Linked DNA regions of Homo sapiens: region 2 is linked to region 1. The links come from fine-mapping of genetic effects on plasma protein levels. Region 1 holds a variant in brackets. A gene starts in the other region. All regions are shown on their reverse strands.

Region 1 (12,417 bases):
TGGGCGTGGTGGTTCACACCTGTAATCCTACACTTTGGGAGGCTGAGTCGAGAGGATTGCTTGAGGCCAGGAGTTCAAGACCAGCCCGGCCAACATAGCGAGACCCCATTTCAATTTAAAAAAGAAAGAAATTATACAAATTACGAACATTAAGCTAGTCTCCAGTTTCAACATTTCTCGTATACTTTGATTTACCTTGCAATTTTTATCTGTCTAGAGTTCTGAAGAGGAAGAATTCTGTAAACTGTGGTTTTGAATGCTCAGTGATACTCTGTATTATCTTCTCCAGCAGTAAAATCATCCTGCAATCCTGATCTATTCACTGTCTTATTAATACTGGTTGTGATTTGTAGATACTGGCTCTTCTCAGATGAAGTTCCAGGATTATTCATTGAAAAAGGCTGGGTACATGACAGCATTGACTACCGATTCAACCATCACTGCAAAGACCACACAGTCTCTGGTGATGAGGATTACTGTCCTCGCAGTGAGTATATCTGTATATCTAAGAGTTATTTCACCCTGCTCAAGTGGGCTCAACATTAAGGACTGCTTTTCCTCTGTCACGTTTTCCATTTGCAGAATTTCTTTATTGTGGTCTTAGATCTATTTGAGTGAAGTAGGTAGATGTGAAATGTGTAGAAAGAAGGAGAGAAACCCACGTTTGATTACCACCTTTGTTCTAAGCATAGTGTGAGAAGATGAAGAGCTTGAATATGAGGATATTTGGGTATTAGCTTTTATAGGAGCAGTTTTCAAACTTTGTCCCTTGGAAGCCTTTGTAGGTGCCTCAAGGGCTGAAATTGAGGTATGGGGTCTAAGAAGGGCAGTGTTAGATGTCCTCTTCTTCTTCTTCTTTTTTTTTTTTTTTTTGAGACGGAATTTCACTCTTGTTGCCCAGGCTGGAGAGCAATGGCGTGATCTCGGCTCACTGCAACCTCCACCTCCTGGGTTCAAACACTTCTCCTACTTCAGTCTCCCGAGTAGCTGGGACTACAGGTGTGTGCCACCACATCTGGCTAATTTTTGTATTTTTTGTAGGGACGGGGTTTCGCCATGTTGGCCAAGCTGGTCTCAAACTCCTGACCTCAGGTGATCTGCCCACCTCGGCCTCCCAAAGTGCTGGGGATTACAAGTGTGAGCCACTGCACCTGACCCTCTTCTTCTACTTTTAAAATTAATTTATTCAGTGTTTATGCTGAATCTCTATTTGTGAAGCAGTTTGTCATACGCTAGGGGTATAGCAGCAAACAAGACAGATAAGGTTCTTAAAATTCTTGTGAGGAGAAACATGGCAAATACCTAACGAAAAATGAGTGACTGAGAGGGGATCATGTAGGGACACTGGTAATATTCTTTCTCTTGATCTGGGTGCCGGGTATATGTGTTCAGTTTGTAAAAGAAACACACACTGAATAGTTTTCTGAATATATATCCATATTCTTTCTTAAAGTGTATGTATTGAGTATATTTCAAGAAAGAAATAAAACAAATTTTAATTAAAAAAATAAGATGGTTAGGTTAGGTCAGGTTTTCTCAACCTCAGTGTTACTGACATTTTGGGCTAGATGAATCTTTTTTTTTTTCCTCCCACCATGACACTGATGAGGAAGATAGTTTTTTGTACTGGGAGCTGTCCTGTGCATTATAGGTTATTCGGGAGCTCCCCTCTACCCACTAGGTGGTAGCAGTGAAAACCAAGTATGTCTCTAAATCCTGCCAGATACATGTGGCAGGCAGCAGTGCTCCCTTTCGAGAACCACTAGGTTAAATGATCCATAAGCTTCTTTCAGCTCTGCTGTCTGTAACCTAATGAAAATTGCTTATGTGTTGGTGTCATGTGGGAGATAAAGAAATAAAAGAAGTTGCTTCCTGAGTACTAGGTTATTGTGCTTCTTCGATAAATCTTTATTTTTTAAAAAGTAATTCATTTTAGAGAAATTCCTAACTCAAGCTTGAAACTCACAAAATTGTTAAATAAGAATAATACTGATTTACAAAAATAAACATTCCTTCAAATAAAACTTCAGATTTAAGGTGTTTGCATGTTGAATTATATCGAGCATAGATTATGTCACTTTATAGAAGAATCTGGTTTCGTTAGACTTCATAAATACTCAGGTGAGGGCAGTTAGGTTTGAGAGCAGTAACTGTGGAGCCTGGATGTTTAGATTTGGAAGAGATTCCAGTGGGATGAAGGAGTGTTACTTTATAATGTGTCCCCGAGACAAGATTGGGGAGCCAGACCCTTCACTTCTAGAGCATCCTGGTGGATGTTGTTTCGTGTTTTCCAGTTCTAGAATGGCAGTTTTTATTTAAAATTACCCAACTGAGGCTGGATGCAGTGGCTGATGCCTATAATCCCAGCACTTTGGGAGGCTGAGGCAGGCGGATCACTTGAGCTCAAGAGTTAAAAGACCAGCCTGGCCAACATGGCGAAACCCCGTCTCTACAAAAAACACAAAAATTAGCCGGGTGTGGTGGCGGGCACCTGTAATCCCAGCTACTTGGCAGGCTGAGGCAAGAGAATTGTTTAAGCCCAGGAGGCAGGGGTTGCAGTGAGCCAAGATTGCGCCACTGCACTGCAGCCTGGGTGACAGAGCAACATTCTGTCTCAAAAAATTAAAAAAAATAAATAAATTACCCAATTGAAAAGACTAAACAAAGTTATGTGTTAGTATTGCAGAGATGTTTCAGGTTAAAGTGGGGAGAATGGGAAAGAGAAGATAAACAATCATAGTATGAGGTAAGGCTTCAAATATTGTGGTGACTGGCCGGGCGTGGTAGCTCACACCTGTAATCCCAGCACTTGGGAGGCCAAGGCGGGCGGATCACCTGAGGTCAGGAGTTGGAGACCAGCCTGGCCAACATGGTGAAACCCCATCTCTACTAAAAATAGAAAAATTAGCCAGGTGTGTTGGTGTGTGCCTGTAATCCCAGCCACTCGGGAGTCTGAGGCAGGGAGAATTGCATGAACCTGGGAGGCAGAGGTTTCAGTGAGCTGAGATTGTACCACTGCACTCCAGCCTGGGCGACAGAGCGAGACTCTATCTCAAAAAACAAAACGAAACAAAACAAAAAACCAAATATTGTGATGATCTAAGATAGGCTTTGATAAATTGGCTCAAGATATATCTATGTTAAAGTCACGTATCAGTATATAGGAACTGATTTACAAAAAAGTTAGTTGTATTATTTGACACTTGAAGCCTCCAAGGATAAGTCTATAGTATTTATATGTTCTCATTACCTCTGCTTCACTACAGATGCCTTTGCTCTTAACATCATGTAAAAGGAGTAAATTCTTTATTTTGCTTTGATATAAAGATATTTAGTCATTCTTCATTCTAAGTTGCAGTACCCCTAAACTTTGGAACTGTGTAACGATTCCACTTCAGAGAGCAAATATCTGAGATAACATGCTGTGTTTAAGATATTTAAGAGAAATTAGCATCTTTTATACATGAAGATATATTTGATATATTTCACAGGAAGTATCTGTGTTGTTACAAATTGTTGAGTTTGGCACTGTGTACTGCTTAGATTTGAAACTAGCAATTGGGTATTTACTAAAGTCAACCTAATGTCTCAATTTTTCTTAGGTAAGAAAGCAAACTTAGGTAAAAATGCAAGCATGAACACACAACATGGAACAGCAACAGAAGTTGCTGTAGAGACAACCACACCCAAACAAGGACAGAACCTATGGTAATGTGAGCATTCATCTGGTTGCTCTTTCTTTTTCCTTTTAATTGTTAAGGAAGAAAGTATTTAGTATAGTGATGCCAGTGAGTTAATAATTATTTGCGCAGGATACTTTGTGTGACTGATATTTTGGATATCAAAACTTCTTGCATTAGCAGACCTGATTTTTTGTTAAGAAGATACTTGTTTTTTTAAGGGTTGGAATTTTGATTTTTTCCCCCCTGTAATATAACTTTGTATATTATGTGATAGATCTTATATAGCAGTAGAAATGTAGCTTAAATTTGGTTGGGAATAGAAGTATTTAAGATTTTCCTTAAATTTTATTAATTAACAAATTGTATGCATAGCTATTCGTTTCCTTTATGCGCATTTCTGCTTTTAGGCAGCGAGCTAGGTTTTAGAGGATCCATTCTACGGCTTTAACTGTGATCACCTGTGATTTAATGACCTTTCATTTTTGAATTTTGGGTATAGGTTTACTCTCTGGAGGGAAAGGGACAAGTATGCCAATTAACTTTATAAAATTTCATATAATATTTTAATAGGAACCATATTGGCTCTGGTGTCCTAGTACAGAATTAACATTAGGCATCATGAAAATAGTAAATTACTTATTCTACTTCTAGATAGTAGATTGTGAACACATTTGGAATTCTGTTCTCCCAAGTCCCACCACCAACTCTAGATCCCTTGCTTAGTGTTTGATTTTGAATTTTTTTTTTTTTTTCAGAGTTATCAGGTCTCTTTTGCCCCTACAGGTTTTTATGTGATAGTCAAAAGGAGCTGGATGAGTTGCTAAACTGTCTTCACCCTCAGGGAATAAGAGAAAGTCAACTTAAAGAGAGACTAGAGAAGAGGTAAGAGGTTTTCATCTTACTCCTCACATCTTACTTCTCTTTAGCATTGGATATAAATATCTGAGGGTTTTTTTTCTTATCCATTTAAGTTACTAAAGTAAAATATTTTAAATGTGTAACCGTTTTGTGTTCATATTGCCTGGTATTTTCTTGGCATATTATGCTTATTGGAAAAATATACCTTTGGCCATCTATATATAGAGTAGCAGGATTATTATGCACTAAAGAACAGTTGCCAGCACCAAGCTGTGAGCCTCATGGTTGTCAGACAGCTTTGCAGATGGAGGCCCAGATGGGTGGGTGTCCAGAAGTATTCTATCAATATTCAGAAGAGCCAAAAGGTGGAAACAACGGCAATGACTATCAACTGATGGAACGGATAAATAAAAGTTAGTATATATCCAGGCCTTGTGCGGTGGCTCACACCTGTAATCCCGGCACTTTGAGAGGTAAAGGCAGGCCAGTGTCTTGCATCCAGGAGTTTTGAGACCAGCCTGGGCAACATAGGGAAACTCCGTTTCTGAAAAAAAAAAACAAAACAAAAATTATCTTGGGTGTGGTGGTTTGTGTATGTAGTCTTAGCTACTTGGGAGGCTGAGCTGAGTTGATCACTTGAGCCCAGGAGGCGGAGGTTGCATTGAGCCAAGATCATGCCCCTGCACTCTGGCCTGGGTGAGAGAGCGAGATGCTGTCTCATACAAAATGAAACAAAAAACCCCCAAAATTTAGTATATTCAAATAGTGGAATATTATTTAGCCACAAAAAGAAATGAAGTACTGTTCTGTGCTACAACATGAATGAACCTAGAAAACATGCTAAGCAAAAGAAGTCAGACATCAAAGGCCATGTGGTGTATGATTCCATTCAAATGAAACATCTTAGAATAGGCAAATCTATTTCAAACAGAAAGTGGATTAGTGGTTGCCAGAGGATAGGGGAAGGGGAGAATAGGAGTGATGATTGCTAACAGGTAAGAGATTCCTGCTTGGGGTGATGAAAATGTTTTGGAATTACATGTGTGGTTCTACAACAAAAAACTGAAGTACATGCTTCAAGTTGGTGAATTTCATGTCATATGAATTAAAAAGAATCAAAAAACCCTGTTCTGTCTACAAAGTAGCATCAAATTTGCGACTGCCATATTTGTTGTAGACATTATTTCTATCAAAGCCAGGACAAGATTTTGGCTTAATGCCTCCTCTCATTGCTGACTCTGTGCTCAATTTCACGGTTGAATTTAGGTTTGATGGAAGAGAGAAGGAAAATATGATTCAGTACATACTCTACACCATTGCCAGACTTTTGCGAAGGACAATAGGTACATTATATTGATGTTAGCCCACTGCTTAATGTGTAAATTAAGTAAAACTGTATTCAGAATTGTGTTGTCTGAATACAGATGTGTCTAGGCAAATTAAGAAAGACAGAGGAGGGCCGGCCGCGGTGGCTCACGCCTGTAATCCCAGCATTTTGGGAGGCAGAGGCAGGCGGATCACAAGGTCAGGAGTTCGAGACCAGCCTGGCCAACATGGCAAAATCCTGTCTCTACTAAAAGTACAAAAATTAGCCAGGCATGGTGGCGGGTGCCTGTAGTCCCAGCTACTAGGTAGGCTGAGGCAGGAGAATTGCTTGAACCCGGGAGGTGGAGGTTGCAGTGAGCCAAGATCGCACCACTGCACTCCAGTCTGGGCAACAGAGCGACATTCCATCTCAAAAACAACAA[A/C]AAAAAAAAGACAAAGGAAAATGTCGGTATACAGAGCCACAAAGAAATATAGTTCTATGATGTTCCTTCTCTTTGGGCAGAGCATTTGATAGCTATGTGTGTTGAATTGAAAAGACCTGTTTTGTTCACTAAATATGAAGATCGAATCCTTCCATTAAAAGCTTAGAAGTGGCTGGGTGTGGTGGTGCACACCTGTAATCCTAGCAGTTTGGGAGGCCTAGGGGAGAGGATCGCTTGAATTGAAATCAGGAGTTTGAGACCAGCCTGGGCAACATAGCAAGACCCCATCCCTACAAAAAATTAAAAATATAGCCAGGTGTGGAGGGGTATTCCTGTAGTCCCAGCTGTAGGCTCAGGTTGGAGGATTGCATGAGTCCAGAAGTTTGAAGGTGCAGTGAGCTGTGATGGCACCTTTGCACTCCAGCCTGTGTGACAGAGCAAGACCCTGTCTCGGGGGAAAAAAAAAAAAAAAAAAGAAAAAAGAAAAAACACCAGGGAGAGGTGAAAGAGATCTAAGTAAGTTTTCTAGAAATAAAACATGTTAAGTAATTGAAATTTGAAGAACATCTTCAAAAGTTTGTTTCTTTCCCCATTCTCTTGTCCCAAATCTTCTAGGTACCAGGACATTATTCACTCTATTCATCTAGCACGGAAGCCAAATTTGGGTCTAAAATCTTGTGATGGCAACCAGGAGCTTTTAAACTTCCTTCGTAGTGATCTCATTGAAGTTGCAACAAGGTTACAAAAAGGAGGACTTGGATATGTGGAAGAAACATCAGAATTTGAAGCCCGGGTAGGAATATAAGAAAATCCCCCTTAGATTACTCATGGCAACTCAATCTGAAGTTCTTCCCTGGTGCTGTTCTTGACTTCCCAACATGACCCTCCTGGAAATCAGATGTTTGGATTTGTCTTGGAAGACATGTATGGAACCAAAAATACCTTATGTATATGTATTTTTTCCTTGTTATCTTTTGCTGCTATCCAGAAAAACTTAGTAATTGGCTTACAACCTTGGTATGAAAAGAGCTTCACTACTAAGGTGAATGAAAACTGGTTGTAGAGGCTCCAGTCGTATAGCATCATTTAACATCTTTACCTTGCGATGCCTGTGCTTTCAGGTGTGAAACATGCTTGCATATCCTGCACTTGCCCATTCTTCACACTCAGTCAGCTCAGATTTCTATTTATGTTGGGCATCACTCATGTTGTCCAGTGTGCTGTCATTACAGTCCTGTCCTTTATTGCTCAGAGGGACCCTTAAGTGGTATAGGTGAAACTTTTCAAAAGATCCCATACCCCGTAACAGGTAGGTTTAGGTATCAAAGATTGGTGAATAGTATCCATCAATTACTATTATAAACCGTTTTTTACTGATTTTAAATCAATAAGTCCACATAATTCTAGACATATTAATATTTGTGGGTCTTTTCAAATTCCTCATGCACTATGATGTTTTGTCTTTTTTTTCTTTTTAAAGAAATGAAGTCCCCTCTGTTACCCAGGCTGAAGTACAGTGGCACAGTCATTGCTCACTGCAGCCTCAAATTCCTGGGCTTAAGTGATTCTCCCATCTCAGGTTTCCAGGTAGCTGGGACTGCAGGTACAAGCAACCATGCCTGGCTGATTTTTAGAATTTTTTTGTAGAGACGGGGCATGTTGGCTCACGCCTATAATCCCAGCACTTTGGGAGGCTAAGGCAGGAGGATTGCTTGAGCCCAGCAGGTCGAGACCAGCCTGGGCAACATAGCAAGACCCTGTTTGACACACAAACACATGGAAAATTTTGTAGAGACAAAATCTCACTATGTTGCCCTGGCTGATCTCAAACTCCAGGCTTCATGAGATCCTCCTACCTCAGCCTCTCAAAATGCTAGGATTATAGGCATGAGCCACCTCACCCAGCCAACATATGTGCTCTTATAGTTTTGTGATTTTTATGAACAGTTTCATTTGCATTCCCCCATGCCATTTTTCCTAATTTATAAGTACTTTTCAACTATTTTAGCTTGTTTTTCTTTGCTATTGGAATAAGCAAATAATATGTGTATCTTACATATGCACATTTTTTCTTTTTAATTAATCTTGTGATGAATTCTTGGTACATTTCCTGGGGAAAAGGATTTAAACATCTTTATGGTTCTTAATGATTTTTTTAAAAAGAATTATTGAACCCAAAGGATCTTGCAGGTTTCAGATGTTACATGTTTACTTTTTTGTGTAGCAAATGTTCATTAATTGCCTACTTTGTGCCAAATTCAGGCCTATATCTTGCTGACGTTAGGTTGTCATTTTTCTTAGTTTTCTTTGTGACTATTAAAACGTTATCTTCTAATTGGCATGTCTTGTGTGATTGACAAGATAGTATTTAAGGACATTTTTTATTTCTTTTCTTTTTATTTTTAAATTAATTGATCTTTTAAGAGATAGGTCTTGTTCATGCGGGCGCGGTGGCTTACGCCTGTAATCCCAGCACTTTAGGAGGCCAAGGTGGGCAGATCACTTGAGGTTGGGAGTTCGAGACCAGTCTGACCAGCATAGAGAAACCCCGTCTCTACTAAAAATACAAAAATTAGCTGGGTATGGTGGCACATGCCTGTAATCCCAGCTACTCGGGAGGCTGAGGCAGAAGAATCGCTTAAACCCGGGAGGCGGAGGTTGCAGTGAGCTGAGATCGCGCCATTGCACTCCAGCCTGGACGACAAGAGCAAAACTCCGTCTCAAAAAACAACAACAACAAAAAACCAAAAAAAAAAAGAGAGAGATAGGTCTTGTTATATTGCCCAGTCTGAAGTGCAGTGGCTATTCACAGATCATAGCTGACAGCAGCCTCAAACTCCTTCTGCCTCAGTCTCCCAAGTAGCTGGGACTACTGGCATGTGCCACCACACCTGGCTGGGTGCATGATTTTGATGAAGTGATTTAACTTCTGTTTCCTCATCTATCAGGTAGATGTGAAGCTTAAAAAGAGATCAGTGAAGCAGGAGGATCGCTTCAGGCCAGGAGTTTGAGACCAGCCTGCGCAACATAGTGAGACCCTGTCTCTAAAAAGAATTTAAAAAATTAGCCAGGCGTGATGCCATGTACCTGTGGTCCCAGCTAATGGGGAGGCTGAGGCAGGAGGATCACTTGAGTCTGGGAGTTCAAGGCTGCAGTGAGTTGTGATTGCTGCACTTCTGCCTGGGTGACCCAGTGAGACCTATCTCTTTAAAAATAAAAAAAAGGAGATCAAGTTTGTAAAACATACTACCTTACATATAGTTAGTTACATGCTGGAAGCAAGTTAGAAATAAGAAAAAAATTAAAAAAACATTAAGATGGAAAGTCAGTGAATTTTTATTTTACTTTCTTAGTGTGTCTTTGCGTTAAAATTGTATTTTACACATAGTAGGCACTCAGTCATTATTGAATGAATCAACTATGTAACTCCTTTATGTGGGGGGGCTTCTGCCATTTAGTGGATCCCTTAGCTGGGAAAAGGGAAGTAGTCAAGTACTTTTTTTTTTTTTTTTTTTTTTTTTTCCCTGAGACGGAGTCTCGCTGTGTCACCCAGACTGGAGTACAGTAGCACGATCTTGGCTCACTGCAACCTCCTCCTCCCGGGTTCAAGTGATTCTCCTGCTTCCCGAGTAGCTGGGATTACAGGCACGTGCCACCACGCCTGGCTAATTTTTGTATTTTTAGTAGAGATGGGGTTTTGCCATGTTGGCCAAAGTGGTCTTGAACTCCTGACCTCAGGTGATTCGCCCGCCTTGGCCCCCCAAAATGCTGGGATTACAGGCGTGAGCCACTGCACCCGGCCAGTCAAGTACTTTTAAATGCATGAGCCATGCAGTGAACTGAGGAGCACAGTTAAATTAATGGTATGTGGCTCTCGATTTTGTTTAATGAATGTTATGTGGCATTTGAGTCTAGATTTATTTGAATTTGAGGTTGGATTCCTTTCGTCTTCCTCTGGGCCTTTTCTCAGTCTGGTTTTAAAATCCTTTCCTATAGGTCATTTCATTAGAGAAATTGAAGGATTTTGGTGAGTGTGTGATTGCCCTTCAGGCCAGTGTCATAAAGAAATTTCTCCAAGGCTTCATGGCTCCCAAGCAAAAGAGAAGAAAACTCCAAAGTGAAGATTCAGCAAAAACTGAGGAAGTGGATGAAGAGAAGAAAATGGTAGAGGAAGCAAAGGTATTTTGTTGTTATAAGTTGTAGTTTATGATTCCGTAGATGAGTTGATTTGGTTTTAAAATAATCTAACCCTATGCATTTTAGCTGCTATAGGCACTGTGCCCTGAGTGAGTGTTTTTGTGTGTGTGTGTGTTTTTTTTTTTTTTAATCACTTTCTACCCCTTCTGTGGTTTTCACACTGGCCTGTGGAGTGCAGCCCTGCTTCTTGGTCATTGGGTGATGGTCACAGTGGATGTGGCCTTCCCACCTTTACCAGAGTTTACTTTCTTTTTTTTGTTTTTTTTTTTTTGAGATGGAGTCTCGCTCTGTCACCAGGCTGGAGTGCAGTGGTGCAATCTCAGCTCACTACAACCTCCGCCTCCCAGGTTCAAGCGATTCTCCTGCCTCAGCCTCCCGAGTAGCTGGGACTACAGGTGCGTGCCACCACGCCCAGCTAATTTTTGTATTTTTTAGTAGAGACGGGGTTTCACCATGTTGGCCAGAGTGGTCTCGATCTCTTGACCTTGTGATCTACCCGCTTCGGCCTCCCAATGTGCTGGGATTACAGGCGTGAGCCACCACTCCTGGTCTACCAGTTTACTTTCTTTTTTAAAAAGGTGGTGGTGACTTTTAAACACATTAACAATTTGTTTATTTAATTTTTAGATACAGGGTTTTGCTCTTGTGTAAGCTGGTATGCGGTGATTTGCTTATAACTCACTGTAACCTTGAACTTCTGGCCTCAAGCTATCCTCCCACCTTGGCCTCTCAAAGTTTGATTGTAAGCGTGAGCCACTGCGCCCAGCCATGCTTGCTCTAGATATTTTTTAAATTTTGGTAAAAATATGCATAACATACAAATTTACTTTTTTTTTTTTTTTTGGAGAAAGAGTCCCACTCTTGCCTAGGCTGGAGTGTAGTGGCATAATCTCAGCTCACTGCAACCTCTACCTCCCAGGTTCAAGCAATTCCCCTGCCTCAGCCTCCCAAGTAGCTGGAATTGCAGGTGCATGCCACCATGCCTGGCTGATTTTTGTATTTTTTGTAGAGACGGGGTTTCACCATGTTGGCTAGGTTGGTCTCGAACTCCTGACTTCAGGTCATCTGCCCACCTCAGCCTCCCAAAGTACTAGGATTACAGGTGTGAACCACCACGTCCAGCCCAAATTTACCATTTTTATGTGTTCGATTCTGTGGCATTAAGTATATTCACGTTGTTTTGCAACCATCACCACCATCAGCCTTCAAAACTTTTTCATACACTTCTGACACCAAATACATGGGTTTTTACCACACTAAGCAACTCTCTAGTTCTCTGCTGATACCAACTACTCTTAAAATTCAGTTTAATTCTGACTCTTTCTACTTGGAGTTTGTGTCAGATCCTGCAAGTTAAAGTGCTCTGTCCCACGAGACTATTCTCACTTCAGATGCCAGTCGCAAGCCCCACGTTGCCACCTGTACCATCTATACATTGAGGATTCTCATGACCCTCTCCTTAAGTATGATAATTTGCTAGAATGCCTGACAGAACCCGGGAAAGCATTTTACTTAGGTTAACCGGGTCATTTTGAAGGATACTACTCAGGAACAGCCAGATGGATGAGACGTGTGGAACAAGGAAGGTGGCGGAGCAGGGGTACGTGGGGCTTTCACGTGTTCTCTGAACACTCCTTCCTTCCAGCTTCTGAGTGTGTTACCTGAAGCTGATCAGATCTTGTTCCAGTATCTTCGTAGAGCTTAATCTCCGAAGTCTCCCCTCCTCTTGCCTTTCAGGAGCTTGTGGGTAGGGCTGAACATTCCAGTCTTCTAATCATCTGGTCTTTCTGGTGGCCAGCCCCATAACTAGAGGTCTCACCGAAAGCCTCATTAGCATAAATTTAGGTGTGATCCAAAGGGGCTCCTCTGAATAACAAAAGACACTCCTATTAAGGTTTTAGTCTGCGGAGAAGGACCAAATATATTTATTA
Region 2 (12,149 bases), not on the chromosome of region 1:
CCTTAACTGGCATCCAATTTCATAAATCCAGTCAATGCTACTAACCAGCATCTGAAGGTAGAGTCCTGGAGCAATTCTCAAATACAAGTTAATGTCCAGCTTGTTGTAGCAGGTGATGAAAGGCTTAGCCCCTGCTACCCGGGATGACGTTCATCATGAGGGTTTCAATGTCTAGAAATCTCAACTCATCCAAAAACCTTGTCATATATGTGGTGATCTTAGGGCAGATGATACACTGCTTTCTCAGAAAGTCACTCAGGATCAAATCCAAGTACTCAAATAATATTGGGTCTCCTTGCCTTTGAGGCTAAAGTAAGGATGGGGCAACATGTGAGCCAGGAGGCAGCAGTGCAATTTTGCAGGGGCTGATGCTGCGCTCGCCCTTCTTGGTGTTTCCTAGATTTTCCTGGACTCTGAGTACGTCTCCCTGAGGCAGTTTATTTATTGACTTATAATTCCTTGACCTGGCCATAACTTGTAACTTCACCCTGGTCCGCAGGGGTCATTAGAAGGTGAACTTTCCCCAGCTCTTTTGGCATGGATCTCCAGGGTGACATCAGTCAGGTGGTCCCAGGCTGCAGGTGACTGCACTCCGGGATGAAGCAAGCGAGTAATGTCCACATGGAAGCTGCAGGGGTCTTCCCCAGTAACCTTCGGCGGTGGCCTGCGCTGGGGGACCTGTAAGGGGCCTCAAAGTTTCCATTTGGGTCCACAGTTAGTGGTGTGGCTGATGGCACCAGCCGCGGCTGGCCTAGCTGTTGCTCACTGAGCTCCGGCTTGGCCCCCTTCTCGGCTACTTTCTTCTCTTCAGCTCATTCTTGTCAGTTCGGCATCACCACCGCCCACTTCCACTTCAGAGCCCTGTCCTGCAGGCACCTTTCCTGATGCCTGGGGTGAGGAAGTCGAGACCCCTCGGCCATTTCCAGGTTCGTTCGAAGCCCCGCCTCTTCGGGGGAGAGGAGGGTAGCGTCTTCCGCGCGGGGCTGCTGCGGCTGCGCAATCGCGGCCTGGTGGCATTGCTCTCCTCCTACTGCGCAGGCGCGATGCTGGGTTCGTCGTCCGGTGTGGATGCCGGTCTTCCTGCTGCGCAGGCACCGTGCTGGGTTCGCGGCCTGGCCTCAGTGCGTGTCCTTTTGCTGCGCAGGCGCAGTGCCGGGTTCGCCGCCCGGCCTCAGTGCTAGTGCTTCTGCTGTGCAGGAGCAGTACTGGGTTCGTGGCCTGGCGTCAGTTGTGCGCCTGCGCGCTGGCGCTCTAGGCTGTGGCTCTCAGCGACTACGGAGGCCAAGGCAGGACGCGGGCTGCGGGCGTGGGAGGGCACGATCTCAGCTCACTGCAACTCGGCGAGGCGCTGGCCGAGACCATGACTATTGGTTTTTAGGTTAACATTTTATTTTTAAATAGAACTTAACTCTGGCAGAAGCCCTGTGACCCTCAAGGGACTTGGGCGCATCCCTCCCCGCTGAGTCCTCGCCGGGAAGGAGTCAGCGCGGGGGCGGCACTGATGTCCCTGTGGGCAGGACTCCGCCGAGGCCTCGATTTGCTGGGCCCCGCCCCTGAAAGCCTTCGCGCACGCTGCCCCTTCCTCCAGGCCGCCCCCCTGGATGGACGGAGCAGCGGGGCCAGCGAGGGCGCTGTGGCCTGAGCTCCTTACCAACAGCCAGGCTATCCCCAGCCCTTACCGTCTTGTCGCTGTCCTCAAAGACCTCGCGGGCCTCTTCGTATGAGCAGGTCTCTTCCATGCACTCTCTTTCGAGGTGTCCTTTCTTCATCTCTTCAAGAAAGGAATTGGCCCTCGTGACCCTCGCCAGGATGTTGTTGGCCTGCTCCCTGCGGATGAACACTGGAAGGCAGGGAGGACAGGGTTAAAAGCTCTGGTCACCCTCACCCAGGCTCCCCCTCACCTATGCTCCCTGACTGCCATGTCCCTTGCCATATCCAGATCACAAAAGGCGGATCACTCTCTTGTAAACCAAAAATAAAATTCTAAGCCCCCAACTCACTGAGTGGACCCGTCCTCTCTGCCAAGGGAATTCCATAGGAACCTGAAAGACTAGTTGAGGCCATGAGGGGAAGCAGGTCCCACACGCCTCATTATTTCTTCCTTTGGAATTCGGGCACAGCTGACCAGCATTCACGTTAAGAGACCTTGAGGCTGACCAAACAGAGTCTTTGTAGCAATAAGATACCAGTTTCCAACCTGACTTCTCTAGTATAGGATCACATGACATATAGCAGGCCCTAAAATAAATGATTTTACTCCAAATTGTATTTGTTTGACATATTTTGAAATGGCCCTGCAAAGCTATCTCAGGGAAATCCACATTCTGTAGAGAACCCCCTTACCATTCCAGGTCTTTTTCTGAGCTGAGAGTCTAGCACCTTTTTTTTTTTTTTTTTTTTTTTTTCTCTTTAAGATGGTGTTTTGCTCTGTCATCCAGGCTGGAGTGCAATGGCACAATCTCAGCTCACTGCAACATCTGCCTCCCAGGTTCAAGCCATTGTCCTGCCTCAGGAGGAGATTCTACTGTCTCAGCCTCCCGAGTAGCTGAAACTACAGGCAAGCACCACCACACCCGGCTAATTTTTGTATTTTTAGTAGAGATGGAGTTTCACCATGTTGGCCAGGCTGGTCTTGAACTCCTGACCTTAAGTGATCCACCTGCCTCAGCCTCCCAAAGTGCTGGGATTACAGGATGAGCCAAGGCGCCTGGCCATGTGTGTAGCACCTTTTAAAGGTCTGAAGAGGAAACAGTTGCCATCTATTCCCTCTAAGGGTGGCCACCTATGAGTCTTCATCTACATAACAAGAACCTTGGTCTCCACAACCTCTTATCTTAACCCAGATACTCCTTTCCATTTATTCCAGGTCTTTAGATAATAACTCTTTCAACTGATTGCCAATCAGAATATCTTTGAAGCCACCTATGACCTGGAAGCCCCCACCTTCCCCTTTTCTGGAACGAACCAGTGTACAACTTATGCTTATTGATTGGTGTCTGTATGTAACTTCTGTCCCCCTAAAATACATAAAATCAAGCTGTGACCCAACTACCTTGGACACATGTTCTCAGGACCTTCCAAGGCTGTGTCATGGGTCGTGGTCCTCACATTTGGCTCAGAATAAATCTCTTCAAATATTTTACAGAGTTTGGCTTCTTTATCAACACTTTCCTCAGGCACTTTGGGGGCTGTGGAGGGAAATGCCCATTTCCCCCCTCCCCCCAGTTCTCTATGAGGTACAGCATGAGGCACCTGCTCTAGACCCATGCACCCTTCTCTGGAGAAGTAGACACATCCCACCCAATCAGCTCACCAGCCTCCTCACATGCTCACGCTGGCTCAGCCTGGCCACCCAAGCCCCCTTCCTTGAATTCTCCCTCCCTAGGGTGCTTTCAGCCCACTGTTCTGTGCTTTGGCTCAAGCTGTGCCCCTTCAGCCTGGCCCCACTCGTCTTTAAGGTCTCTGCTCTTTGTTATGTGGGGATTGGTGATGCTGTTTCAATTACAAACTATAATAGTACAATTTATGAAGTGCCAGGACACACATACATGCCAACTTTCAAGAAATAGTATTTATTAGTATTTCCTAAAATACAGTACTTAGTACAAAGTTTTCTATTTGATTCTACTCTTTTAAAAAAAAATACTGAGTTGATTTCATGACTGGCAAATGAGTCTTGATCTGCTGGTTAAAATGCCCTGGATCCGAGAGTCTGTGTCCCTTGTAGAGTGTGTGTCTGTGGGCTGTGCTGTCCACATCTCTCTGCCTGTGTCTCCTTTGTCTCTCACCCACTCCTCCTCCTCTTTTCATTTTGACAGCCTCAGTTTCTTTTCTTGGCCCTCTGTAGTCTTTTTCTGTGCTTTTTTTCCACTGAAAAATTCAATGTCTCACTACAATAAAGATAACTCTTCCAACTGATCTCTCTAGCACTGACTTTTGTCCTGAGCTCCATGTTTTCAGCTCTCTCACTATGACAGATGCCTTCCCTCATCTCAGAACTCCAAACTCTCCATGTCCAAAATTTAAAACAAGACTGCAGAATCAAGCAATCTTGAGCTTCAAAAACACCTTAGTCACTTATTATTTATTATTGGCAGAAGGGAATTATAATATCTACTCTTAGAGCTGTTTTAAAGATTGTATAAACTCCTAGTGTTGAGTTTGGTATACAGAAGGTGCTTAGTAAATCTTGGGTTCATTCCTACCTCCAGTTACTTTACCTTCCAAATTCCCCATTTCTTTTAGTGACACCGACATTATCCCACCAACGCTAGACTTAGATTTATTATTTCTTGACCCTGCCCCATTACTCTGCGTGTCTGCTCCACTCCCACACACTTGCTCTGAAATGCAGCCCACACGTGGCTCCCTGCAACCTGCAGCCTCATGTCACCTCCACTCCACAAAAGGCACTGAGGAAGCTGAGGGGTGGGGAATGCCCATCTCCCTTGGGGCCTCTGGCTCTCATGTTGGGATGACCACAGCCTCAGACAAGTTATCCAAGCCTGGCTTAGTGTTTCCCAAACTGGGACTCGCGGGCCTCCTGGGCTCCAGTTGGGGTCTGAAGACCGCGTTCTGCCTTGCCCTCGGTGTTCTGACGCACCTCCATGTGAACACCTCTCTTGGTACCTTCTCTCTTCCCCTTGGTCTCCTTCCTTGTGGCCAGATGGACATATGCCTGCTTTTTTCTCTGCTACCCTAGAGCCACAGTGATGGTTCACAGACTTGCCACAAGGATTGGTCCCCACTCAACTGGAGCCTGACGCCCTCACTGTCTCTGGTCGATCCCTTGCGCCTCCTCTGACCTCTTAGAGGAACTCGCTGTTCTGTGATAGCGGCCACAGCTCTGTTCCCCTTGGCATCCACCCCCGAGCATCCCCAGGCTGATTGACCAGTAAGAAGTCACCTTTCCTTTGCAGCCCCTGTCCAGTTCCCGCCTTTTCCCATCTCCCTGAAGCCTGCTCAGCTCTCCCCAGCTCATGGGGGTAGGACACGGCCTATAAGGTTGAGCTGGACTGTGTGAGGAAGAGGGTACAGGTGGCAGGCACGGGGTGGAAAGGGTGATGCAAGGAAGTCAAGGACTACCCAGAATCTGCCTCTAGTGGTCTTAGAACAGAGCCCAGGGTCTTCCCATGGCCAGGCCTCCCAGGCCTCACCACCTTCAACTCTGCCCTCATTCACCTCTCTCTGCCACACTGGGCTCTGCGCTGACCCTGGCTGAGCCCAACACTCACACCCCAGGACTTTTGCACCAGTCACCTCCCTGTCTGGAACATTCTTTCCACAGATACCCAAGTGGCTCAGGCCCAGCGCCCTCCGAGACACCCTCCCTGACCACGCCCTCTGACGTTGCCCCCACTCGTGTCTCTTTCATCCCCTTACACTGTGCTATTTGTCTTCTAGCACCCAACCCCTCTCTGACATTACATGCTGACAGGCTTATCCTTCCCTCCGCTGGAAAAAGACTTGACGTGTTTGGTCACAGCTGTATGCCCGTGCCTAGCACGGCCGGAACTTAACCAATATGTGTTGAGGGAATGAAGGAAAGATGGCGTGCCTGGCTCAGCCCTCTGGACTGAATCTGGGCGCTTCTGCTATCTGTTATGGCTGAGTCGCATCAACGCTTCAGTCAGACTGAGCAGGCCGGGTCTGGGCCACGTGGCCACACTTTCTGATGTGAGTAAAATGGGATTTTGGCAAAACGAAATTAAAACAAGGTTTTTAGGCACTTGTCTCAAGAAATTAATGGAACACTCTAGAACTCTGATATGGAGCATCCAGATTGGTAGACATTTGTCGTGTGGTTTGTTTCTTCAGAAGCTGTTGGGAGCATTGCAATCCTCGAGCACACAGTTGTGTTTGTTGTTTTGGCAACATCAGTGAATTCCACAGTCAGCAACTGCATTTGAGCAAGTTTTACCAGCAAGCAAAATTTTCAGTCAGTAAGGTCCAAACTCATGAAGAATGGGTTTAAACTTGTTGAATGTAAAGATTGAAACTGAAGCCACGTAGCTTTAATGATTGCCAGTACAACAGCAGTAGTTTAAAGGCTGGCACTGCAGGTGCTCTGCGTATTCTGATTTTATTAAAATAAAAAGTTGGATTGCAGAAAACACTCACAGGTGGCAGGACAGGGCTGAATAATGTCCCTCCAAATTCATGTCTTTCCCAGAACCTCAGAACCTGACCTTAATTGGAAATAGAACTTTTGTGATGTATTTAGTTAGGAAGACATTTTATGGGAGTAGAGTGAGCCCTAAATCCAATGACTGGTGTCCTTCTGAGAGAAAAGAAGACAGAAAAACAGCCATGGTGAGAACCCCATGCGATGATGGAGGCAGCGATGGGAGCAATGCTCCCACAAGCCATGGGCTGTGAGGCCGCTGGCACCCCGAGGCCAGGAAACAGGCCTAGAGCAGACTCTCTCCCAGCCTCTGGAGGAACCAGCCCCGCTGACGCCTTGATTTTGAACTTCCAGCCTCCAGAGCTGTGGGAGAAATGTTTCTGTTGCTTTAAGCTACTTGGTCCATTGTCCTTTCTTGTAGCAGTACCAGCAAAGGAATGCTGAGGTCCCACCGCCCCAGAAGAACTTCCGTGACTGCCAGGACAGCTGTGCTCGTTTAAAGGCTAGACTGCAGATGCTGTGCGCATTCTGATTTTATTAAAATCAAAAGTGTGCACAGCAGGGTCCTGAGTGGGACCTTCTGGGACCTGTGTTCAGCCCCACCCACCCCACAGTGCAGCTGCCGAGGCCTCTGAGGCAGAGTAGGGGAGAGAGATGGCCTGGCCCTGGCTCTCCGGGGCTGGCCATGTCCACCCAGGGTCCAGGCCGGCCCCCGGGGACACCACAGGCCATGGTTATGAGCCAGGCCCGCATCACACAGCTAAGGGTGCCAATACCCTGTGGACCCAGAGGTCCGCGAGGTGGGCGCCTGCATTTCCCATTGGCAGGAAGGGAAGCTGGCGCTCCACCAGGACTCTGCATAACTCCCCTAGTTTCCTCCTGTGGGTCTGGGTGGGCTCCTGGCCTGTCTTCTCATCCCCACCCTCTGCTTCTTCCCAGGAAGAGGAGTCCTGCCAACTTCCATTCCCAATAAGCCAGAGCAGCTTCCAGAGTCCCGGGCCGGGCTTAGGGCCTCGGGAGCCCCGGGCCGGGCTTAGGGCCTCAGGATCCTAGAGCATTCCGGCTGCAGAATTTTCTACCAATTCGCGGAAGCATCTGTCTGTTTGCAGAGTAGCTTTGCTGTCGATGATGATGGCATGGGTCCTTCCAGGGCCTTGTTCCACCCACGCTGATCTCATCCCACCACAAGCATCACAGTGGGCTCCTGCAGGGGGCAGTGTGGCCTGAGGGGGAGGAAGAAGGCTGGGCGAGTTGGAGCCACACAGTACCCCATGAAGACGGGAGTCCCGTTCCGCGTGGGAGACAGGAAGATGTGGCTCAGGGGACAGAGGCTGGGGAGGGCAGGGGGTTGAGGGTGGGATGGAGAAGACCCCCGTGTGATGTGACTGGAGCTCCAAGTCACCAGGCGGAGGGGCCGTTTAGGTCAGTGATGCACTGAGGATCCACTCAGCCTTCCCAGGGGTCTCCCCTTTCCACCCCACGAGGGTCTCCCCCTGCTCCGTCTCTCCCTCACACATTCCCTTCCCAGGCCTGGGTCCCCTTGGTGCCCCTGCCTGTCCACTTTGTCCAGGATGCAAACAAGTCTAGGGTCCCTGTCTCTCGTGTCCCCACCAGAGGGGCCTCCTCTTCCTCCGCTGTCCCCAGGCTTGCCTGGCTTCTGTCCTGTCTGGGCCTCTGCTTTTGGACAGACCCGGGGGTCCTGGACAGCCCTGCTGCCCCCACCTGTCCAGCTGTGCATTAGGCAGCTCCTTCCCCGACGGAGCCAGTCCGAGAGTGGTGGCACTGGCTCGGCTCAGCCTCCTCCTCCCTGGGAGCTCCTCTGCTGTGCCCCTCGTCCTGTGCCTCCCTGTGGTGGCAGATGGCTAACTGTCCTGTCTCTGCCTGCCCCAACCCCTCCCTCTCTCTCTGTCTCCGTCTTTCTACCTCTGTCTCTGCCTCTTGGCCTCCCATCTCACTGTGTCTCCGTTTCTCCTTCCCTCTCCCTTTCTCTCTCTGACTCTGTCCTTGTGTTTTTGTCTCTGTGACCTCTGATCCGCCCGTCTGACTCTCAGCCCCAGGGAGCCACAGCTGGCCTTGAGGATGCCGTTGGCTGGAAAGGCCAAGCCCAGCCATCCGAGCCCAGCCTCTGGCAGCACTCAAGGCACCCACCGTCCAGGCTGCAGAGATGAGAGGGTTTCCCCAACTGCCGCCCCTCCCTGCTCCCTGGCGCTGCTTTTGGGTCTGAAGGGCGAGGGGCACTTACGACTTTCCCCGAGCAGCAGGAGGCCAGCCAGGGAGGCACTGAGCAGGACGAGGTGCAGTGGGCGCCCCATGGTGTGGCCGAGTACTGTGTCCCTGTCCTCACTGGGACAGGCTGCTGGAGCAAAGTCCACGCCCCAGCTGGGATGGCTGTTGTCTGGCTGCTTATCACTTGGCTTAGGCCTCCTGATTGGAGCCGAGACCTGCTGGCGAGGCAGGGGAGTGACCACGCTGGGAACACATCCACTCTGGCCCCACCTTCCCCAGGCAGAGCTGGGCGGCCAGAGAGGCCCCGCAGAACCTCATCCTCATCAGTCACCAGGGCCGCGGGTGTGGGGACTTTCTGTTCTAAGAATAAAAACATCATTTCGTGCTCATTTTGTAGTTTCCAGATGTTTACATTTAACTCTCAGTCCTCACATACAAATATCATTTTCCCCATCATTTTTCCAGAAGAGAAAACTAAGTTTAGAGAGCGCAGAAGCCTGAGCCGAGGCCGCTGGCAGTGAGCGTGGGATCTGAGCCCAGGACTTCTGCCCCAAGGCCCTGCTTGTTTCTGGGCGGGCCCTTCCGCTCACAGCCACTCTCTGGGTGGTATCAGGTGGTCTCATGTCACGGGGGGGGCTTGGCATCTGCACCATGGCCTCCCACAGGCCAGGCTGGCACCTGCCCCACCCACCCCCAAACCTTCTGTGCCCGCATGGCCCCAAAACGTACTTCTGTGGGGAGTGACCTTCCCGTGACCATCTGGAGGGACAGGCTGTGTCTGAAGCCCCTCCTGACCTGCCCACCACTGGCCACACTGTTCCGAGGCTGAGAGGGCTTCTGGGCTCGTTCTCCAGTGCAGAAACCTCCCATCACAAGGTCCTGAGTGTCTCTGCTCAATGGCTGTGGGAGTCACTGGGAGGTGCAGCCGGGCTTTTTGCCTCTGGGGTCTCTGGAATAAATGGTCTAAAGCTTGGCCAGTGTGGCGATCACTGCCTGCTATGCCGTAGTGGCCGGGGAGCAATGCCCCTAACACCCACAGCACTGGCCACTGCCTCATGGTGCATCTGCCTTGATGGGTCGCCCTGTCTCGCAGCCACCTGCACATGAGCCTGGTGTGCACACATTGTGCGTCATTGTGCCTGGCACACAGGAGGCACTCACTGAGCCCCACCCGACTGCACAAACTGATGATGCTGGATGCCAACGCCAGGCTGGCCTCCCACGGCGGGCACCACGCACAGCCTGGTCCTCTGAGAAGGGCCTTCCTGGTGGCACCAGATGTCTGACTCCTGCCTCTCCTGGTCTCCACCCTCTGACATCGCCTCTAGGCATGTTTGTATGGAGAGACCAATGCGGTGTGTGCACCAACAGCAGGATGCTCATGGCAGACACGCAGTCTTTGTCATCAATGCTGGGTGGCGATGCTGGCTTTGGTGGCCCAAGCCTGCCGCCTCATCCCACCCTGTCCCAGGCCCATGGCCAGTGGCCTCCCCGTATTCTATCTCGCCACTCACAGAAAGCTGGAGCTGAGCCGTGGCAGGTGGCACGTCCCATATGAAACATGTAGCCTTTGGGGGCGCCCAGGCCCTTCAGCGAAGCCTCTGGGGAGTCCCGGGCCCCCTCCTCCGGCAGCACCATGAGGTGGGCGCCTGCATTTCCCATTGGCAGGAAGGGAGGCTGGCGCTCCACCAGGACCCCGCATGACTCCCCTAGTTTCCTCCTGTGGGTCTGGGTGGGCTCCTGAACTGTCCTCTCATCCCCACCCTCCGCTTCTTCCCAGGAAGAGTCCTGCCAACTTCCACTCCCAAGAAGTCAGAGTGGCTTCCAGAACCCTGGGCTGGGCTTAGGCCCTCAGGAGCCCCGGGCATTCTGGTTGCAGAATTTTCTACCAATTCACTGAAGCATCTGTCTGCAGAGTGGCTTTGCTGTCGATGACCATGGCATGGGCCCTTCCAGGGCCTTGTTCCATCCATGCTGATCTCATCCCACCATAAGCATCACGGTGGGCTCCTGTTTTACACATGAGGAAACTGAGGCATGGTCACTCGGACAAAAGAGAAAGCAGAGCCAGCTCTGACCTGGATCAGGGCCCGCCACTGGCTCCCGTCCCGTTTAGGGGGCATTAGGAACCGGGGTCTGGCCAGGGTCAGCAAGCATCTTCAGCAGAGGTCCTGACACTAACCATGCTGGGCTTGGCGGGTCAGCTGGTCTGTCCGGCTGGACGTCTCTGCCACGGCCACTCCATGGACACTAATATGGGTGTGTTCCCATAAAACTTTATTTACAAGAGCAGGGTGCCTTGGAAGCAGCCCACGGCTGTAGTTCATAGACCCTGTCTGCTCTGAAGTAGATGATGCCTGAGTGCCCCCGAGGTGGGTTGCTGGTGCCTGCCTTGCTGCTGTGAGTGCCAATGGTGCCCACCTTGCTGCTGTGAGTGCCAGTGGTGCCCAGGACGGCCCTGCAGGGATGGCATCGAGTCCACTCTCTGAGCCGTGCTTGCCGGAGTCTGAGTGGGGGCACTGTTTGTCACCTCCCCATTTCTCTGTTCATGTGTTTCTCATTCTTCTTCCACCACCCTGGGGACTCAGCAAGAGTGCAGCTTGCCAGGTCCTCCCACTGCAGCCAGGGCCTGGGAACTTGCATTTAGTGATGCGTGTGTCCCTGACTCTTGAGCAGGTGCTCCCAGGGTCTCTGTGAAATATCATTGACAAGGGCTGTGGCAGGGAGAGAACATCCAATTCCACAGGATCCTGGGAGCTACAGCCTCAAACATCTATCAAACAGCTTTTGTTTTTAAAAAATAGCTTCCATGTGAGGGTTCATTTCAGTGATGTTGAAAATTGTGAAAGAAAAGAGCATCTCAGAGGATGAGCACCGGGGGCTCCAAAAATGAATCATGGGCAACCCAGTGGGTGGCAGGCACCACAGGTGTGCGGAGGAGACGCAGCCGTTTATTGTGAAGCTGGGAAGCAGGTGGGGAATAGTCTGTGCAGCCCGGCACCCAGCGAAGGGAGAAATACATTTGGGGGAGAGTTTGGGGGCATTCGCCACCATGCATGGTGATGCTTCTGAATTGTCTGAAGTGAAGATGATAATGGATAAGAACCAGAAAAGTGAGAGCTAAACAACCGCCTTCAGAGGACAGCACACATGGAGTCAGCATCGGTGTGTGTGCATCTGTGTGTGCATCTGTGTGTGTACATCGGTGTGTGTGCGCATTGGTGTGTGTGTGCTCATCCATGTGTGTGCATATCTGTGTGTGCGCACATCGGTGTGTGCATATCTCTGTGCATCCGTGTGCACTGATGTGTGCGTGCATTGGCATGTGCGTGCATCCATGTGTATATCTGTGTGTGCATCTGTGTGTGCATATCTCTATGTGCGTGTGCATCGGTGTGTTTGCGTATCTCTGTGTGACCATCTGTGTGTGCATCCGTGTGTGTGCATATCTCTGTGTGTGTGCATTGGCGTGTGTGTGTGTGCATCCATGTGTGTTCATGCCTCTACTGTCTCCAGCAATGAAGGCAGAGCAGCAGCCTGAGGCCAGCAGATCACGTGCAGGTGGGCTTGGCTGAAGGGAGGTAAGGAGGCTCAGCTGGGCTGTCTGCCTCCAGGACAACCTTGGCACTCCCCTGCCCCTCTGTCCAGCGCCTGTCTGCCTCTGCCTCTCATCTTTTCTATTCCATCTCTGTGTCTCTATTAGTCTCTTTGAATCTTGGAGTCTCTTTGAGTCTCTCTCCATGTCCTCAGAGTCTCTCCCTCAGTCTCTCTCTGTCTCTGTCTCTCTCTGTTTCTGTCT

Alleles and levels. Alleles are on the strand shown, and positions count from the first base shown. The strength of an association depends on the size of the effect and on how common the allele is.
In carriers of allele C in region 1, the plasma level of the protein whose gene starts at base 8,493 in region 2 tends to be lower than with A alone (weak association).

The links. PIP is the posterior inclusion probability: the model's chance that the variant is causal. The UK Biobank Pharma Proteomics Project read protein levels with antibody pairs (Olink). The fine-mapping took linkage between variants from a reference panel, not from the people measured, so its PIPs are less certain.
Region 2: it holds the start of F10, and the variant in region 1 is fine-mapped to the plasma level of the F10 protein (UK Biobank, PIP 0.98).

Annotation. Positions count from the first base shown.
Region 1 is chr7:73,457,587-73,470,003 of GRCh38, reverse strand. BAZ1B (bromodomain adjacent to zinc finger domain 1B) reads left to right here. Exons shown (of 20, transcript NM_032408.4): 9 at 354-487; 10 at 3,603-3,708; 11 at 4,467-4,565; 12 at 6,905-7,082; 13 at 10,286-10,468. Among named protein-coding and RNA genes, the nearest start is that of FZD9, 30 kb to the right of the region's middle. The variant A/C (reference allele first, on the strand shown) is at 6,290.
Region 2 is chr13:113,119,143-113,131,291 of GRCh38, reverse strand. F10 (coagulation factor X) reads right to left here and starts at 8,493. Exons shown (of 8, transcript NM_000504.4): 1 at 8,367-8,493; 2 at 1,680-1,840. The coding sequence starts at 8,436. It overlaps F7 (coagulation factor VII), which reads right to left. Exons shown (of 8, transcript NM_019616.4): 8 at 10,607-12,149. It overlaps F10-AS1 (F10 antisense RNA 1), which reads left to right and starts at 1,246. Exons shown (of 3, transcript NR_126424.1): 1 at 1,246-1,286; 2 at 2,415-2,557; 3 at 2,867-3,137. It also overlaps the pseudogene KARS1P2. RefSeq lists enhancers at 615-1,341, 1,342-2,068.